Regions from separate parts of the Homo sapiens genome. Here region 2 is linked to region 1. Evidence: fine-mapped expression QTL. A gene starts in region 1. The other region holds a variant in brackets. All regions are shown on one strand. Distances are between the middles of the regions. Region 1 holds the start of TNFRSF8 (TNF receptor superfamily member 8). Region 2 has its middle 18 kb from the start of MIR7846.

Region 1 (5,377 bases):
CCACTTAAGCCATGTGTCAGCTACTTTCCTGGGCGCCCTGGGGGAATTCTGGTTCTCAGGAGTACACAGTTTCCTGGGGCAGAGGGATGCATGAACCAGTCATTATGGTTATGACATGATGAGATCAGATCTAGAATTGCGGCACAAAAAATGACAGAAACCACTTTTTGACTGGGAAGAGGGCTGGGGGACAGGAGACACTGCCAGGAAAGCAACAAGGAGGAGGTGGCATTGGAACAGGTTAGGAAGATGATCAGGAGTCTGTGTGCGTCCCAGGTGGAGGCCAGCGTGGGCAAAGGCTGGCAGGGGTGAGAAGGCTGCACATTTGGCTGGAGTATAGGTCCAGGAGAAGTAAAAAGGCACAAGGGAGGAGTCAGCCCCTGCCAGGCTGTGAGCAGACTTGTGCACCCTTGCATTTGGGTGACTCTGACCCAGGGGAGCCACTGCAGGGGTTCCTTTCCTGCAGAATGGGCATAAAAGTAGGACCTTGTTCATGGGGTTTTCATGAGGATACAAGAAACCAATGCCTGAAAACTCTTAGCACAAAATAAGCACTCAAAGGTAGCTGTTATTGTTATCATTAAATGAATAATATAATTTTCTACGTGGTCCTCTGCCAAAACACACACCATACTTCCGCAAGGGTTCTCTACAGGGGAGTGTCTTGGTGAGATGTGTGTGCTAGAAAGGTCTCTTTGGAAATCCATGGAGGGAAGGATATGAGGGAGAGACAAGTTTCCACAACATCTATAGATTTATCCTTTTTAATGGATGTGCAATATTCCATTAAATGGATGTACCACAATTTCCGTAATCATTTCTTGTTGTGAATCTCAGAGTATTTCAAAAATTTATAAATAATATATAAGGAAATGTTACTGTATAGTTTTCTTTTTTCTTTTTCTAGTTTTCCAGTTAAATTATTTCCTTAGTTTTTCTTCACTGAGGTGAAATTACTGAGCCACTCACAAGTAGTACACATTTTTTTTTTTTTTTGGCTTTTGCTAAAAATTGCCATACTGCTTTCTGAAAAGGGTTGTAACATTTACCAGCAGAGTATGAATGAGTATTCTGGTCTCACCACAACTTTGGGGTTGGATTTACCAAAATTGTTTTTATAAAGCAAAAAAAAAAAAATGATGATTGTATAGATCTAAAAGGTTATCAAAGGTTGCTTGAATTTGCATTTCTTTAATTACTAAAAAGGTTAAACTTATAAAACTTGTAATTGATTTTTATTTGTATTTCTCCTTGTGCAAGCTATTTTGATGCTGTTGTTCATTTATTTATTCAAAACACCAGCCCTTCTCTCTCTCTCTTTTTTAATTAAACAAAAAATAGAGATGAGGTCTTGCTACGTTACCCGGGCTGGTCTCAAACTGGGCTCAAGTGATCCTCCAACCTCGGCCTCCCAAAGTGTTGGGATTACAGATATGAGCCATGTCACCCAGCTGCCAGCTTTTCTACTTTTGTAGTAGAAAGCTCTGGACTGGGAAGCAGGTGTCTTGCGTTCCTCCTGTCCCTGTCTGGTTCTGTCATTATCACAGGCAGGTCACTTCCATAATTGCTTACCTCATTGTTTAACATAGTCCCAGCTCAAACAGCCTAAGATACTGGGCCTGGTACATCCAGAGGAGAGTCTGGAAGTGGGTCTCTTGGGAAGGGGCATGATGGAGCAGTTTTCCCAAGTGGAGTCCAGCAGCCCCAGGAGGGTTGAGCATGGAGTGGTCAGTTGTGGAGACCTTGCTGGGAAGTTCCTGGTGGGAGGTTATCACTCCTACCCTATAGGGCCTTCACCTGATGGAGGCCTGGTACCTCGCAGGACAGATCAAGGTAGACACAGAAGCCAGAGTATCCTTAGGCTATTCTGGGCTCAGGGAAAATAACTGGCCCACCCTTAATTAGAGCACCTAGGACTGCCTGCCTATTTCTGAGCCTTGGCTTTCACATCTGAAAACCAAACAAAATCAGTCAAAAGAACCCTTGACCTGTGGCCCACCCAGCAGATGCTCAACACAGACACACGGAATGTGGAATAAAAGGAGCAAAGAGAAAACCCAGGGGATGGGGAAGCACTGGAAGGGAAAATCATTCACCAGCAAATGAGAACATAGTACGAGGAGGCTTGAATCATTTCTGTTAGGAGAGAGTGCCAGCCGCCTCCTCCAGGAAGAAAACTCTAAAGGGTCAGGCCTCAGGGAAATAAAATGATCTATACCATCCATCAGTTCCTCCAACATTCAGTCCATCCATCTACCAATCCACCCACCCATTTACCCACTCACCTGCTGCTCATCCATCCATCCATCCATCCACCTATGCATCCATCCATCCATCCATCTATGCATCCATCCATCCACCCATCCACCCACCCATTTACCCACTCACCTGCTGCTCACCCATCCATCCATCCATCCATCCATCCATCCATCCATCCATCCACTTATGCATCCATCCATCCACTTATGCATCCATCCATCCATCCATCCATCCATCCATCCATCCATCCACCTATGCATCCATCCATCCATCCATCCATCCATCCATCCATCCATCCATCCATCCACTTATGCATCCATCCATCCATCCATCCATCCATCCATCCACCTATGCATCCATCCATCCATCCATCTATGCATCCATCCATCCACCCATCCACCCACCCATTTACCCACTCACCTGCTGCTCACCCATCCATCCATCCATCCATCCATCCACTTATGCATCCATCCATCCATCCATCCATCCATCCACTTATGCATCCATCCATCCATCCATCCATCCATCCATCCATCCATCCATCCACCTATGCATCCATCCATCCATCCATCCATCCATCCATCCATCCATCCATCCACTTATGCATCCATCCATCCATCCATCCATCCATCCATCCATCCATCCATCCACCTATGCATCCATCCATCCATCCATCCATCCACCAATTTATCATCCACTCACTGATTCATTTTACAGCAAATGCTTATGAATGGGGATGGGTGGGTGATGGTTGCTTTTTCTGCAGTCTCCCTAGGCCAGTTGTCCCTTCCAAAGAATCTCAAGGGCATGGGAGAAGGTCCTGGCTGATCGTGTCAGGGACAGGAAACTACTCACATTTCACCGTTTCTTGGGGCAGGAGTGGAGGTGGGGGCATTGGAACCCCCTTGGGGCCTCCTAATATCCTGTGAGTCCCCACCTCCAGGGCCAGAAGCTGCCTGCCTCCGCTCCCCGCAGCCCAGGTGCGGCGGGCAGCACACTCCCTAGAGCCAGGACCACTAGTTCCGTCAAATCCGGGGCGGGCCATTCAAACAGCTAAGGGAGGCGTCTCCTAGTGTGCCTTTTCCTGAGTCATCTCTGCACGTGTTTGCCCCCTTTTTTCTTCGCTGCTTGTAGCTAAGTGTTCCTGGAACCAATTTGATACGGGAGAACTAAGGCTGAAACCTCGGAGGAACAACCACTTTTGAAGTGACTTCGCGGCGTGCGTTGGGTGCGGACTAGGTGGCCGCGGCGGGAGTGTGCTGGAGCCTGAAGTCCACGCGCGCGGCTGAGAACCGCCGGGACCGCACGTGGGCGCCGCGCGCTTCCCCCGCTTCCCAGGTGGGCGCCGGCCGCCAGGCCACCTCACGTCCGGCCCCGGGGATGCGCGTCCTCCTCGCCGCGCTGGGACTGCTGTTCCTGGGGGCGCTACGAGCCTTCCCACAGGTAAGCGGGTGACGGGCGCCTGGGGAGGTGCCGGCGGTCCAGAGCCCGGACAGTGTGGGGTGCGTGGGACGCAAGGGAGGACACTCCTCACCCCGTTCCCTGCCCAGCTGGAGTGAGGGGGCGCGGGTGACAAGCAGGAACACCGGAATATGCTAGCACCCACAGGTGGGAGGCTGGCTGAAGGGCTAGTGGTGGGGGGCGCCTCCTTCTCACCCCGCGATGGCTGGGACTGATTCATTCATTCAGTGTGAATTGGACTGAGAGCACTGCCATACGCGGGAGGCGCTCTTTAGCCCGCCTACCTGCGGGCCCGTCGGGGTCCTGGGCAGATCAGGTGAGGCCGTGGGAGTAGTGGGCAGGCCAGATGGGGCCTCCCTTAGCCATGGGAGGTTGGTCGTCCGCGCTCTACCCTGTTGTGTGCGCGGTCCCGTTTGCCCCCTTCCTAAGCTGGCCACTGGCTGGAGGGTCAAGGAAAGGAGGGAGAGTTGGCTGTGGGTGAGAGTGGGGTGAGGGTGCAGGACCACCGGGATTAGCTTCCCCAATCCGCGTCCGGCAAAGCAACGCTGTGGATTGAATTCGCTGGAGCACGTGGTGGGCATTTGCCCCTGGAAGAAGGTCAGTGGTGGGGCTGAAGTCTATGGTGGGTTGCCTCAGAATTGAGTTTGGGGACTGCTTTAGGAAAACTGAGCACTTACCAGTGGCCAGCGCCAAATTAATCACTGTGGGGAGAATGCAAAGTAACCAGGCGTGTTTCACGGAGCCCAGGGGCTGCTGGAGAGAGAGGCCCTCAGCTGACCCAGGACCCCGGTGGACCCCTGCATAGAACCATAGTAGGTGCGAGTGGATGCCTGCTGAATGATACAGAGGGAAAGGAAGGAGCAGGCTGTTAGTCCAGCGGTGGGTCACGGTGGGGGAGAGGGAAGACCCAGTTCCCCTTTAATCCTACAGGAAGAGAGGACTCCATGCTATGGATCAATTCTAGTCATCTGAACCTTAGGCAGTGGGAGGAGAGTGGCAGAGTGGGCTTTAGGCAGGAGGGAGGAACTATGCAGCAAAGGAGGAACTATGCCCTCTTCCATTTCCAATGGGCAATGTGAGGTATTCCCCCTTTCCCCCCAAGAGGGCAGAGGGGACAAAGCCCTGGCTAGAGACACCCTGTCCCAGCTCTGCAAGCCCTCACCTGGGGGAAGGTAAGAGTTTGGAGTGCCAAGGTCTTGGGGAGATGAAGGGAAGGAAGAGATGTGAGAGGTGCTTGGGGGGCTTTGCTGGTTTGGTTTGGCAGCTGAAGCTCATGTGCTTCCTTTCTGTAGAGTGAAGCCCCCTCCACTTTTTTTAATGTTAGAGACAGGGTCTCACTCTGTTGTCCAGGCTGGAGTGCGATCATAACTCACTACAGCCTGAACTCTCATACCAAACCTTTTTTTTTTTTTTTTTTTTTTGAGACTGAGTCTCACTCTTGTTGCCCATGCTGGAGTGCAATGCTCGATCTCGGCTCACTGCAACCTCTGCCTCCCGGATTCAAGTGATTCTCCTGCCTCAGCCTCCCAGGTAGCTGGGATTACAGGCATGTGCCACCACACCCGGCTAATTTTTGTATTTTTAGTAAAGATGAGGTTTCACCATGTTGGTCAGTCTGGTCTCGAACTCCTGACCTCAAGTGATCCTTCCGTCTCGG
Region 2 (5,377 bases), 86 kb after region 1:
GCAGGTGTTCAATGTTGGGGCCATGGGTGTGAGCCAGGCACAGGGCAGAGAGGCTTGCCTGCCATTCTCTGCAGCTCAGACACAACAGCAGCGTGCGGATGGTGATGGCGCTGCGGGGTCACACACAGGCTCGAATCCCAGCTCTGCCATTTATCAGTTGCATGAGCTTGGCTATGTTCCATGATCTCTTTCAGACTCAGTTTTCTTGTCTGTGAAATGGGGGTGTCAGTCTCTACCTGACGGGGTTGTGGGGCTTCCCTGACATGCCACTCGGTGTGTGGCTTGTGCTGAGTGGCAGGTTCTGTCCTTATTCCAGCCTGGTGGCCGCTTGTCAAGAGCGAGCCCTTCCTATGTCTGCAGAATTCAGCCCATCAAGGTTAATCAGAGCTTTCAGGCCAGCCTGGGAACCTAGCCACCCTTGGGGCCAACTTGCTGTGGGAAGCCCCGCAGTGGGCAGGCCTCTTCTTGTTCTGTGGGCTACCCCAAGAACCCTTCAGATCACAGTCATAGGACTGGCTCATTATTCGACGTCTGTAACTCTGGGCATGTCGGCGAAGTGCTGCGGGTCCCTCCGGAGGGACATCTCACTCGTGGTTCTAGCACATTCCAGATTGCACCACATTACTGTTCGAGGGCTTTCCTCAATTAAAGGGTCTAGCTGCTGAGGACTAGTGGGGCACAGACTTGCTCTCGTGGGTCCTGTGTCTGGTGGACGGGACAGACGGTGGCGTCATCAAATCAGTACACAAGGTCATTCCAGAGTCAGATCACGCTGTGAACCACAAGGAGTCTGAGCCAGGTACTGTGGCAGAGTGGGAGGGGAGGGCCACCACTAGCTAGGTGGTCAGGGCAAGCCTCTTTGAGAAGGTGCCCTTTGAACTTGGCCTGAGTGATGTCACAAGCCAGCGAGGTCTGGAAGGCAGGGAGCTGAAGTGGGCACACTCCTGCCTCGAGTTTCAGGAAGAACACAGTGGTGGAAGAGGCACGGTGGGCGAGGGAAAAAAGGAGGTGAGGGGGGAAGGCCTGGGGAGGAGGGCCTGGTGGGCCATTGTGATTAGGCACCTAGATTTTATCATAAAAGTACTGGTCTATGTTTCTTTCTGTTTTCTTCCTAGTAGAACAATAAACATCCTGGTATTATTTCAGCAATCAGTGAGAAAGGCCAAACCAGGGGCGGCAAAGGTTGTTTTAACCTATTTTGGAGGGAAGTTGGGGAAACAGGCAGCAGCTGCTGGCAGCCAGGAAGCAGTTAGATGGGTTTTCTCAGAAAGAACTAAGACAGCATTCCTGGTGATGATTGTAGCTATGGGTAGGGTTAGGAGTCTGCCGGTCTAGCTTCCCCCTTTCTCTGGGTATCTTCCAGAGAGTAAAAACCAAACTGAAAAACCCTGGGAAGCCTGGAGGCCTTTGTTTGTGTTTTGGTGTGGTGATTGTTTTCCCGGTCATGAGGCAGAGGGATCATTTCAGTATCACAGGGTCAGCGGTGGCCTGTGCTTTTTACCCTTTAGCCCTCATGGAGGCAGTGGCCATTTCATGACGGTGGCATGGAGCTGTGGCTTCCGGCTCGACAAGCTCCCAGCTGCTTGGTCCCAAGCAAAGCCCTTATGTGCGTTCAATGTGGGTTTTCTGGTCTGCAAAATGGACCTAATGGGGCCAGATGCGGTGGCTCACGCCTGCAATCCCAGCACTTTGGGAGGCCGAGGTGAGTGGGTCACTTGAGGTCAGGAGTTCGAGACCAGCCCGGGCAACATGGCAAAACCCCGTCTCGACTAAAAATACAAAAAGTAGCCAGGCATGGTGGCATATGCCTGTGATCCCAGCTACTTGGGAGGCTAAGGTGGGAGAATTGCTTGAACCTGGGAGGCGGAGGTTGCAGTGAGCCGAGATCGTGCCACTGCACTCCAGCCTGGGTGACAGAACGAGACTCTGTCTTCAAAAAAAAAAAGAAAAGGAACTATAAGGCTGAGAGGGACTGTGGAAGTCCAGTCTGGGCACGTATGCCATGTTCAGTAAATGACAGCCATCAAGAGCAGCATCTTAAGAGCTGAGAGTTCGCCTAGGCCGCATTCTTTGTACATCTGGGCTTCCTAATAGAACCCTGGACAGTAGATAGGCTGGGTGGCAGCACTCCCTTTTACAAACTGAGGCTCGGGGAGTGGGGGGGAGCGAAGCAACTGGCCCACTGCCACACAGCTGGGAAGTCCCAGAGCTGGAGTTCAACCCCCAACTTTGTGATTCTAAATCCCTCCCCATGCCCAGGTGGCCTGGCTGCCTCTGTGGTCAGGGGTTGTGTTCATATCGTGGTCATCCCCTGGCACTATGCCTTCTAGATAAGTTTCCTTTCATCTTCAAGTCACCACAACTGAGAGATAGAATAGAGGCTGATTTTATTCCTCCCTTTATGGGAAGGCAGGGACAGTTGCAAGAGGCAGGGTAACCTGCCCAAGGTCAAACTCCAGGCTGGGTGTGGCTTTCTGACTGCTCTGACCGGACAGGAAGGACACAGAGCTAACCCAGCCAGGGCCTCCTTCCTTGACACAGCTTTCCTCAAAGGTGTGTGTGATTTTTTTTTTCTTTCTTTCTTTCTTTCTTTTTTTTTTTTTTTTTTGAGACAGGGTCTTCCTCTGTCACCCAGGCTGGAATGCAGTGGCACAAATACAGCTCACTGTAGCCTCAACTTCCTGGGCTCACGTGATCCTCCTGCTTCAGCCTCCCGAGTAGCTGGGATCACAGGCACGTGCCACCATGACTGGCTAATTTTTTTTTTTCTTTCTTTGTAGAGACAGGTCTCTCTATGTTGCCCAGGCTGGTCTTGAATTCCTGGGCTCAAGCAATCTTCCTACCTTGGCTTCCCAAAGTACTGGATTACAGGCGTGTGATTCTGAGGTCCAGGGAGACTCGGGGCTGGGTTGAGTCCAGGGAATCTCTGGGGGAGAACTGCCTGAGAGTGGAATTGCCCTTTCCATCCCCAGTAACACCTCATATCCTGCTCACTGCCCCACCTGAGGCTCCCTGAAGGAAGACGATCAAGAACAAGCCTCCCATTTTACAGATGGGAAAACTGAGCCCCATAGAGGCAAAGC[A/G]GTTTTCCCAGGGTCCCAGCTTGGTGCTGTGTGATGGAGATAGCTCTAACTGTAGCTGTCAGTTGGGGCTGGGGTAGGGGAAAGTCACTGTCTAGTCCAAGGGAGCAGTAAAGATGACATGCTGATTTTCATTCTTCCTTTAAAGAAAAAATTGATGTTAAAAGTAACTGTGGTGAGAGGGTTGGGTTCTTACTTACAAGGCAGCTTTGCAAGAGTAAACAGAGTAGACAAAAATATCCCATCAGCTGGGCTTCTGCAGCTTCACAAGCTACTGATCCGTGCAGTCAGAGGGCCCCAGGTTCAGAAGGGCCCTGGGCTTGGTTTAATGCTCTGCTGTCGCCATCTTGAAAGTGATGAATAATTTTTGGCAAGGGGCCCTGTGTTTTCATTTTTCATGGAGTTCTACAAATTATGTAGCTGATCTTGCATGGGGGCAGGGAAATCGTTAATTCAGAATTCACTTAATGCCAAAGCATTTTACCTCCATTGTCATGTGACCTCAGAGGGACCTTATAGATGAGCACACATGTCCCCATTTTTAAGAAGTGTTAAATGACCAGTAACTGATGTAACTGTTCCAGTCATCTCTTGCTACATAACAAATCACCTCAAAACTTAATAGCTTAAAACAATGGTCATTAATTTTGCTCACAAATCTGCAATGTGGCCTGGACTTAGCAGGGGAGGTGCATCTCGGCTCACATAGTACCAGCGGGGGTGATGAGATGAGCTGGAGAATCCACCTCCAAGAGGGCTGGCAAATTGGTACTGGCTGTCAGTTTCTCTCTGTGGAGCTTCTTGGGCTTCCTCACAGCATGGCTGCTGGGTTCCTGGAGCCAACAACTCCGGGGGCAGGAAGTAGAAACTGCCAGCGTCATAAAATTTGACCCCGGAAACTGGCACTGCATCCCCTTTGCTGCATTCCAGGTAGTCACAGAGCCCAGACTCAAGGGGAGGGGACACAGATCCCACCCCTCATTAGGAGGAGTGTCAAAGAATCTCGAGATCTTATGTGTCAGCAGGAGCACTTCACATACTGTCTCATTTTAGCCTCTCGGTAATTTTGCCATTATTGTCCTTGGAGTTGGCTCAAGGAAGCTACATAACCTGGTGGAATCCCAAGTTCCTCTGGCTGGAATTTGGATCCAAGCTGGTCTGTCTCCAGAGTGTGAGCTCTGGACTGAGCAGCTGACCTGTGCATTCAGGGACCCATACAGTCAGAATGTGGCAGGACTGGAAAGCAAGCTCACATCTGTCTGATTAGAGAACATCTGAGCTTGGTACCCATACAAACTAGGCCCTATCTAGTTTTTAGATAGGGAAATCAAGGCTCTGAGAGGTCTTGCCAGGCCTCTCCTGAGGAAGAGGGCAGGGTCTGGGACCTTCCAGGGCAGGATGGGGCCCCCAACTTGGGTTGCACAGAACCATGTCAGGAAGTCACATAGAGTTGTGGGTAGATTATGCAAGTACAGGCTGTCAGGAGGGATGTTGTTTTTCACTGCAATTACACTTCACTCAGGAAATACAGCTTCTGCACGTACTGAGGGAGGGTTCCTCACCCTGTGCAGAAGACCTCCTGGTGAATACCGGGGCACTCGCTGGGTGACCCTGGGTCCTCTGGGCCAAGTTCATGCATCGAAAGTTCCCTGAGAAGCTCTTTGTGCCCATCTGGGTTGGGCTTTGACAATAGAGTTGAAGAGGCTTTATTCCTGCCATGCATGGAGTCACAGGTTAGTAAGAAAGATGATAAGAGCTGTACTTGAGGCTTTCGTGTGCTCTCACTTAAACCTCACAGTGCACTAGGAAGTAGTTATTACATTACCCCTATGTTACAGATGAGGAAACCAACACGCAGAGTGGCTAAGCCAGTTCCCCAGGGTCACACAGCTGCTAAGTGGCGCAGCTAGGCTTTGAACCCAGGCCACCTGGCTGGAGTCTGCGTCCTCACACACTTGGCCATGCTGCTCCATTGTGGCTCAGGCCGAGGTCACCACTGTGCTGAGGCCCCAGCCCTGAGTCCCAGACCCTGTAGAACACTGTGCAGGCATCCATGGGGCTCAGTGAATGCACAGGGAATGGAATTTGCTCTTGGTTTTTATCCCACCTTTCCTTTCCAAAGCCCAGCTGTGGCCAGGCCTCTCCCTCACAGAACCTTCTATGACTCCCTAGTGCCTACATGCCAATGTCTGCCAATCCAGCTTTGCTGCTACCTCCACAGCTCCCATATCTAAACCTCTCCTGAGACCCGACTGTTTCCGCTCAGTCACCAAATACAGAGGGCATATCCTCATCAT

What was found. PIP is the estimated chance that this variant, and not a neighbour inherited with it, causes the effect.
Region 2: its variant is the best candidate, but not a certain one, in a credible set for the expression of TNFRSF8 in whole blood (INTERVAL, PIP 0.83).

Annotation. Positions count from the first base shown.
Region 1 is chr1:12,059,960-12,065,336 of GRCh38, forward strand. TNFRSF8 (TNF receptor superfamily member 8) reads left to right here and starts at 3,344. Exons shown (of 15, transcript NM_001243.5): 1 at 3,344-3,702. The coding sequence starts at 3,640. RefSeq lists silencers at 2,787-3,019, 3,607-3,736.
Region 2 is chr1:12,146,068-12,151,444 of GRCh38, forward strand. No RefSeq gene overlaps it. Among named protein-coding and RNA genes, the nearest start is that of MIR7846, 18 kb to the right of the region's middle. RefSeq lists enhancers at 422-501, 2,355-2,484. The variant A/G (reference allele first, on the strand shown) is at 3,084.